2 linked regions of the Homo sapiens genome follow. The protein of the gene in region 1 interacts with the protein of each later gene in a biochemical or structural test. Each region holds a gene or a part of one and is shown on either strand. Other genes may lie near its edges.

What was found. The genes of interacting proteins can lie anywhere in the genome.
Region 2: the proteins of PTH1R (region 1) and IL16 interact in a test that uses a peptide from one of them, tested with the Homo sapiens proteins (one large-scale study listed by IntAct).

What each region holds. Positions count from the first base shown.
Region 1 is NC_000003.12:46,880,077-46,885,182, reverse strand, and holds part of PTH1R (parathyroid hormone/parathyroid hormone-related peptide receptor precursor), read right to left. Parts: intron 4,122-5,106; coding exon of another isoform or gene 4,065-4,121; intron 3,189-4,064; exon of another isoform or gene 3,001-3,188; intron 2,935-3,000; exon of another isoform or gene 2,719-2,934; intron 1,672-2,718; 5' UTR 1,624-1,671; coding exon 1,549-1,623; intron 1-1,548.
Region 2 is NC_000015.10:81,199,879-81,203,378, reverse strand, and holds part of IL16 (pro-interleukin-16), read right to left. Parts: intron 2,979-3,500; exon of another isoform or gene 2,909-2,978; intron 1-2,908. UniProt on the Homo sapiens protein: Interleukin-16 stimulates a migratory response in CD4+ lymphocytes, monocytes, and eosinophils. Primes CD4+ T-cells for IL-2 and IL-15 responsiveness. Also induces T-lymphocyte expression of interleukin 2 receptor. Ligand for CD4.

The sequences.
Region 1 (5,106 bases):
CCAGAGTCCCACAGAACCCTGCTCTGACACATAGACTTACTCTCAGGACACCCACACCCATCACCCTGTCTACCCCTCAGGCCGTCACACACCAAACTCCGGGGGTGGGGTTGGTGGTAGTTCTATCCCCTGGCATTCGTCAGTACTTGGAGTGTCTCTGCAGAGGGTGTTGAGCTCCTCTGAACCTCAGTTTCCCCATCCACAAGGCCTTGTATGGGGCTGTCTTTGGTGGGGAGCCTTTGCTGGGGCCAGAATTGTGAGGGTGTAGGCACAGGTAAGTGGGAAGTGCTGAGGACCTCAGAGGAAGGGAGAGCCTCTGATGATGGGATTCTCAGGCAGATGTTTCTTCCAGGCCCTCTCTTTTACAGATGGGGCAACTGAGGCACGGAGAAGGACAGCCCAGGCTTACACAGGCATCATGCAAAGGTGGAGGAATCCCAGGCTCATTGGAACTGCCTGGAGCTCTGCCCCGTGTAGGGAGCTGCTGCTGGTCAGGAGGAGGAGGCTGCCTGACTGCCCTGCTCTCTAGCAGGCAGATACCCCCACTGGGGAGCAGGGAGAAGAGGCTTTGAAGTTAGGCGCACAGGCAGACAGCCTCCCCAGGAACGGGCTCGTCCCAGGGGATGGGGTTGCTGTGGAATAGGACTGAGGGGCTGGGACAGCCCCCTTCCCAGCAAGTGGGCCCCAGACCCTGGCCCAGGAGGAGGAGGTGCTGCCCACTCTGTGTCTCCAGCTTTCTGCCTTTGCCTGTCTCCCTATTTTTTTTGCTGTTCTTAGTCTGTCCACCCCTCCAGCTGGGGGGATCTCTCCTCCCCACCCGGCTTTGTCTCTGTCTCTCCTCTCCCTCTAGCCTTCCCTACCATTCTGCTTTTAGGTCACTCTCAGGGAGTGACAGTCTTTCCAGGGGTCTCCTCACTTCCCCACAGGATATGCTGTGCTTCTCCTACAGGGGTGCACTGTGAGGTCAGTCTCCTTCAGGGAACTCCATCCCTTCTCCATGCCACACCACACCCACCTCCTTGGGGAAACAGCTTCTACCCTGGGTGAAGCCAGACGTGTGCATGTGTGTGTGTGAGGGCTGGAGGGGGCCCCTAAATCCTACCCCCTGCCTGGATGATTCTGACCTCAGACCTACATTCCCTGTGTCCGGGACTGCAACAAAACTTGCAGAAAACAGAGGTCCCCAAAGCAAAGTCTGTGGGAGTACGCAGCAGGGCCAAAGCCCAGCCTTCTGTTGGGTCACACTGTCATCTTCCAGGGAGAAACAGCCATGGTGCTCACAGAAGCAGAGGATGGTGAAAACTCAACCACAAATTGCCAGATTTGGGACCCCAAACGAGGCTTCAGAAATAGGGAGGCTTCAGGCAGCTGGAACCCACAGTCCAGACATCCCAGAGACAGCAGGCACCCAGGATCCTGGATCAGAGGGGACTCTCACCCAAAGTTCGAACTACTGGGGGAACTCAAGACTGCGTGCCTTAGACCTATCCCGCGGACCCTAGGGTAAGCCCGCAGCCTGTCCCGGAGTGTTGGCGGCGGGGGACTCACCAGCGCGTACGCGGAGCTGAGCACGGGGCAGCAGAGCAGGAGCGCCAGGCCGGGTGCGATCCGGGCGGTCCCCATCGCCACCGCCTAGGGCCGCGTCCCTCGGGGCAGCCGCCGCCGCCGGCCCTGGTGGTGGTAGGGGGTGCAGAGCTGCGTCAGGCTGGCCGCCCCGCCCACGCCCCGGCCTATGGGACCCCGGCGTCCCGGCGGCCCGAGGCCCCGGGGCCCGGCGCGGGGCCCATGCGCTGAGGGCGAGCGAGCGAGCGAGCGAGCGAGCAGCGCAAAGGAGGGAGGGAGGGAGGGACAGGAGGGAGGGAGGGAGAGCCGGAGGCCGGGCGGGCGGCGGGCGGGCGCCGAGCGCTGCGGAGCGGCCCGTCTGCCTCGGAGCGAAGAAATCACATCCATATGGCCGGGCCCCCCGCCCCCGGCCCGCCCCCCGCCCCCCTCCCGCGCCGCCTTTTCTTTCTTTCTTTCTTTCTTTCTTTCTTTTTTTTTCTTTTGGGGAAATGGGAGCTGTGGCTTCGCCCCACGCCCAGTGGGGGGAGGGGGCGGGGGAGGGGTCGGGGTCGCGGTCTGCGGGGGGCGCGCAGGACTGTTATTTTTAGCTCCGCGACTTTCGGCGTAGGGAGTCAGGGCCGGGCAGGGGGCGCGTTCTGAGCCGCGCGGGGCGTGCAGTTAGGGGGTGCGATCTCAACTTTGCAGCCACACTGAGCCCTTAGGTGTTCCGGCCGCCAGCCCCCGGCCGTTCGGCCTCCTGAGATCCCAGACCCTCGGCAGCCGCCTCCCGCACCCCTTCCCCATCCTTGGCCAGAGCCCCGCTTGCGCCTGTGCGGCTCGGGCGCGCAGCGGCCCCGACGCTCTGTCGGTCTGCCTGTCTGTCAGTCCGTCTCTAGCTCCCCCGGCCTTGGCCTCAGTTCTTCCAGCGGCCCCAAGCTCCGTTTCGGTCACTCCCTCGCTCCCTCCCTCCCCCTTTTCTCTCTACGAAAACATTTGCAAGTTTCCAAAAAAGCCACCGAGCCGAGCGGCGCGGGGCTGGCGACTCCCCCGGGTTCCGAGGAGGCGCCGCCGACTGACACCGAGACAGAGCAGCCTGGCTGCTCCGGCCAGGCCCGGAGTCGCTCCTCCCCGACTCCGGCCACTTCCCCTCGGCGCGGGTCCCCAGCCCCGACTTACTCCGAGCGCGCCGCCGCGGCCCCCGCCTTGCCATGGATGTCGGGGCCCCCCCGACAGCCTCCCCAAGCCAGCGCCCCGTCCGCGGCCCCGGGGGGACTTCATGGAGCTCTCGGGATACCCCCCGCTGGCCGGCCTGGCCTCCAGCGCCCCCCGCCCGGCCGCCGCTCGGAGCCACCGCCCGCCGCGCGCATCCCTCGCCTCGGCGTCTGCCGCTCCCCTTCTCCCCGGCCGGGCGCCTCTTCCCTCCCCCGCGCCCTCCCGGGCCTCTCCCGCCCCCACCCCCTCCGCAGCCGCCGACGCGGGAGTGTGGAGAGGCCGAGAGGAGCCTTCCGCCCCCCGCCCCGGGACATTGCGCTAGAGGCCGAGGCCCGGAGTCTTACGGCGGCGGGATGTGAGTGCTGGGGAGACGGGGCGGGGGCAGCTGTAACATCGAGACCCGAGCAGGGAACCCGGGACGCCGCCGCCGCTTCATTCTCTTCTGGAAAGCACGGGCTTTTAAATTTTTTTTCCCTTGATCATCCGGCCCCCGCTGGCGAATAGAGACCCTGAGCCGAGAAGCGAGCCCTCTTTCATCATGGGCGAATCCCCTGAGGAGGCTGCCCGGTACCCCCGCGCGCCCCCGGCCGCGACGCTGTCAGTCCACTGGGCTCCCGTTCGGGCCGGGTCGGGGTCCCTGGGGAGGCCGCTCGGCTGCCAGCCCCGAGCCCGGCTTGGCTGCTGCCGCCCTCCCCCACGTCCAGCCCCACCCTCGCCTCGTCCCCTGCCCTCAGTCCCATCCCAGGCCTGTCGTTCCTCTCGGCCCTAGGCCAGCCCCGACCCCCGCCCAGGTCTGCAGCCACACATCCCGCTCCCTCCCTGCCCAGCGTCTCTTCGGGTCCGGGTCTCCGAGTCTCGACCCATTCAGCTGCTGGCCGGGCCTCTCCAGCTTGCCCAGCCCCAACCCCGGAGGCTCGAGGCTGCCAGACCTGGGGCTCAATCCAGACACCCACTCTCAGGCTTCACCTCCCTCCCCCGTTCCCACCCCCACTCCCAAAAGCTATCGGCCGGCTCGGACCGGGCCGCCTGGGACCCTCGACTTAGGGGAAGGCAAGGAGGAGTCCGCGGGGGTTGGGGCTGAACGGGGCGGGATTTCTGTGTTTGGCTGGGGAGGGCACGCTGGAGCTCTAAGAGGAGGGGCCCTTCGACCCCAAACCTACCACCTCCCGGTACCAAGTGGGGAAACTGAGGCAGAGGGAGGGGCTGGGGATGCCTGGAGCGCAGGGCTTTAAGGATCGCGGAGGAAGCGAATGCATGAGGCCCTGGGAAATGAGTCTGGGCTAAGCAACAGCCTGTGCTTGCCCGCTTACCAGTTGTGTGTCCTGGACACTACCACTCTTCGGCTGTCTGGACCTCAGTTTCCTCATCTGCAAAATGGAGAGGTTGGCCAGCTGATTCAAGGGCAATGTTAACTTTACTGTTTAGTTTCCACGAGGGTGGGCATCCTGGCCCATGGGCTCCAGGGGCTCTCAAGACTCAGCCTGTGGATATTGAGCTCCTCGGAGCCTGCAAACCTGCCCTCCAACCCTCAGTGCAAATCTGTCAAGCCCAAGTCCTAAGGCCTAGGATCCAGCTGCAGCCACCCTTCTGCTGGCTCAAGCCCATCCAGCTTCCAGACTGCACTCCCAGGTGCATTCCCCATGTATTTCTTCTGCTGCTACTTTCTTCTTCTTTCTTCTCCTTCTCCTTCTTCTTCTTCTTCAAGACAAAGTCTCACTTTGTCACCCAGGCTGGAGTCCAGTGGCATGATCTCTGCTCACTGCAACCTCCGCTTCCCAGGCTCAAGTGATTCTCCCAAGTAGCTGGGACTACAGGTGTGTACCACCAACCTGGCTAATTTTTGCATTTCTTGGTAGAGACGGGGTTTCACCATGTTGACCAGGCTGGTCACGAACCCCTGACCTCAAGTGATCCACCTGCCTCAGCCTCCCAAAGTGCTGGGATTACAGGTATGAACCACCAGCCTTGGCCCTCCCCATGCATTTCTATGGCTGCCTCCCTTCTCTGTGCCCACTGCCCTCATTTCTTTTTCTGGTGTTCAAGGGCTGTGCTATTTGAGACAGTTTCCTCCAAAAATGACTCTCCCTAACAGGAACTGTCTGCTAGACTCCTGGTCTTCTTCACACATCCACTCTCCTGCCTTTGTCCTTGCTGCTTCCTCTGCCAGGATCATACTCTTCTGCCTGGTGTAAAGGACACTCCCCTCCCTCCTTGTGTGCCCACATCCTCCGTTACTGGGGAGGGAGGTTGTGATTTCAGGGCTGCCTCCTATGGTATGTAGCCTCCTTGGGACGGAGGCCCAGGTGCCAGAATGGGCACCTAAAGAACACTTGTGGTTCTTCAGTGTTATAT
Region 2 (3,500 bases), on another chromosome or scaffold:
TAAAACACCAAAAGCAATGGCAACAAAAGACAAAATTGACCAATGGGATCTAATTAAACTAAAGAGCTTCTGCACAGCAAAAGAAACTACCATCAGAGTGAACAGGCAACTGACAGAATGGGAGAAAATTTTTGCAACCTACTCATCTGACAAAGGGCTAATATCCAGAATCTACAATGAACTCAAACAAATTTACAAGAAAAAAACAACCCCATCAAAAAGTGGGTGAAGGATATGAACAGACACTTCTCAAAAGAAGACATTTACGCAGCCAACAGACACATGAAAAAGTGCTCATCATCACTGGCCATCAGAGAAATGCAAATCAAAACCACAATGAGATATCATCTCACACCAGTTAGAATGGTGATCATTAAAAAGTCAGGAAACAACAGGTGCTGGAGAGGATGTGGAGAAATAGGAACACTTTTACACTGTTGGTGGGACTGTAAACTAGTTCAACCATTGTGGAAGTCAGTGTGGCGATTCCTCAGGGATCTAGAACTAGGAATACCATTTGACCCAGCCATCCCATTACTGGGTATATACCCAAAAGATTATAAATCATGCTGCTATAAAGACACATGCACACGTATGTTTATTGGGGCACTATTCACAATAGCAAAGACTTGGAACCAACCTAAATGTCCAACAATGATAGACTGGATTAAGAAAATGTGGCACATATACACCATGGAATACTATGCAGCCATAAAAAATGATGAGTTCATGTCCTTTGTAGGGACATGGATGAAACTGGAAACCATCATTCTCAGCAAACTATTGCAAGGACAAAAAACCAAACACTGCATGTTCTCACTCATAGGTGGAATTGAACAATGAGAACACATGGACACAGGAAGGGGAACATCACACACTGGGGACTGTTGTGGGTGTAGGGAGGGGGGAGGGATAGCATTAGGAGATATGCCTTCCAAATTTTCTATAGTCCTTGATGATGCTAAATTTTCATCACTCTTCAAACCCTATTTTTGGATAACACTTCTTTAAAATGAAACCACAAACCAATACAGACCCCCAAAGCTGTCTGTGCTCTGAGAACAGGTTCTTCCACTACCAAAGCACTCATCTGATGCTACTCCAGTGGCTTGTGTCACCACTGGTCATGTCTACTGAACTCTAAGCTCCCTGAGGGCAGAGTCTGTCTGTCATATTTCGAGTTGATCCATGAGGCCTAGCTTGGCGAATGGCCTCTATCAATTGCTCAGTAAATATTTGTTGAATGACTAAGGATGATTGCATTTAATGTTTAAAGGTGTTCTCTGGCCAGATAAAATGTATAAAGTAGGAAAAGACATTTTACATACTGTACAACACCTTTGCTTGGGCTAATTCTTCTGGGGAACTAATAGTTCACTTAGTAACCCCATCTCTGGTTCAAATCTGATGAATTGCCTATGCTTACTTGCCTTATATTGTAAGTGATCATCAAGATACATGGAATACTGTTGAGATATGGAGAAGAATGAGGTTAAGTCTTTTTGTGCTACATAGAATTGGAAAACAAAACATGCTGCAGCACAGTGTGTGCGCGTGTGTGTGTCTGATGCTAGAATAAATCAGAGAGAATACTCAACAAGCTGTTATTGAAGAGCAGAGAATGGGTAAAAACTGATTACTCTACATTTTACTAATTACAGCATTTTTACCAAACACAAAATTTAATATTAAAGATTAAAATACAAAGTGGCAATATAATAAATTGCTAATAAATTTGTATACACCACTTAACTACAACCTAAAAAGAAAAAGAGGGAAAAACAAAAACCACAAACTTAAAACAAAGAAACCCAAAATATGATCTGCCTACTGGAAGAAATAGAAGTAGGAAAGTGGCTCAAAAAGTTGTTCGTGGATGAACAACTAAGATCTCCTTCCTGGAGAACTAAGGGCAGGGCCATTAAATTAGACATTTCGTGATCTCTAAATAGAACTGAGAGGAGATTCAAAGAAATGCAAAATAACAGCTATAGAGCATTATGGAGTCTTTGGCCTGAAAGAATTTTTCAGATTTTGATGGTCCAACTGCTGTCATTTACTTCTGTGTGTGTGTGTGTGGATGGGGGTGTGTGCGTGCATGTGTGTGGGTGTATGTGTGATTGCTTTGGCTTGAGTTTTGGTAAGAAATTACATATCATGTCTTTTAAGATTATTTTTAGATATATTTCTCTTTTTCACCACACATACACACACACACACACAGAGACACACACACACTTTTTATTTTCTGCTTCTGACAACTAGCTCAATGCAGGGGATGCATTGTCCTGCCACTGCTTCAGTAAATGTGACAGGTATCCTGTGTTCTCAGCAACTGCTGCAGGATTCTCTGGCATCTGCACTTTGGCTGGAGTTGGCTACAACCATCCTTGGAGGATGAGGAGAAGGAAGGAAGAGAGGGAAAGCGCATAAGACTGGGCCACCTGTCCACCTTCTCCAACCCTCACCATTGCTCGAGGCTCTCTTAATCCATTTATGAGGAGGTAAGTACAGAAAAAAAGACAGATGAGCTTATGGCTGACTCAGGCCTGAAATCCTTGCCTTGGATAATGGGAAGAAGGCCATCTTTTTGAAAGAGAAGATCAGGAATATTTCAGTTACAATACTCTCCTGACACATTTTCACCATTCCAAACTCCACCCAGTGTTCTACAGGACTATTTATGAAACTTTTAAAATCTTGACCTAGGCTAGGCATGGTGGCTCACGACTTTAATTCCAGCACTTTGGGAGGTTGAGGCGAGCAGATCACTCGAGCTCAAGAGTTTGAGACCAGCCTGGCCAACATGGCAAAACCCCATCTCTAATAAAAATACAAAAAATTATCCAGGTGTGGTGGCGTGTGCCTGTAGTCCCAGCTACTCGGGAGGCTGAAGGGGGAGAATCACCTGAGCTCACGGAGTCAAGGCTGCAGTGAGCCGGGATTGCACTGCTGAACTCCAGCCTGGGCAACAGAGTGAGACCCTGTTTCAAAAAATAAATAGATAAATAAATAAAAATAATTTTTAAAGAATTTTAAAAATTAAAAAAATCTTGACTTACCATAATAATTTACATTTTACATCATAGTACATGGATCACATACACATAAGATTTATATGTATACATAAATAAATAAATATATATAACTAAAAACTTTCATGAAACAATACCTTTACTACGGTATAATAAAAATAATATAAAATATCTTTGGTATGAAAAAGATAATATAAAATATGATTTTGCTAAGAACCTGATGCAATCTGATGTATGCTATTCTTTTTTTGTTTTAGAAAAAGGAAGTTGGTTCCAACCCGCTAAGTTGATTTTCAATCCACTAGTGGGTCATGCTTGAAAACCACTACTTTCAGGTTTTCTCTGATTTTTTACAGCAATTCCATATGGGGTATTTGCTTTGATTCCTCATTTAGCTCCCTTCTTTGGGCCACTGAATCTTGTCATATGTGCATTGATTTTGCCGCATTTGCTCAGCCCTACTCA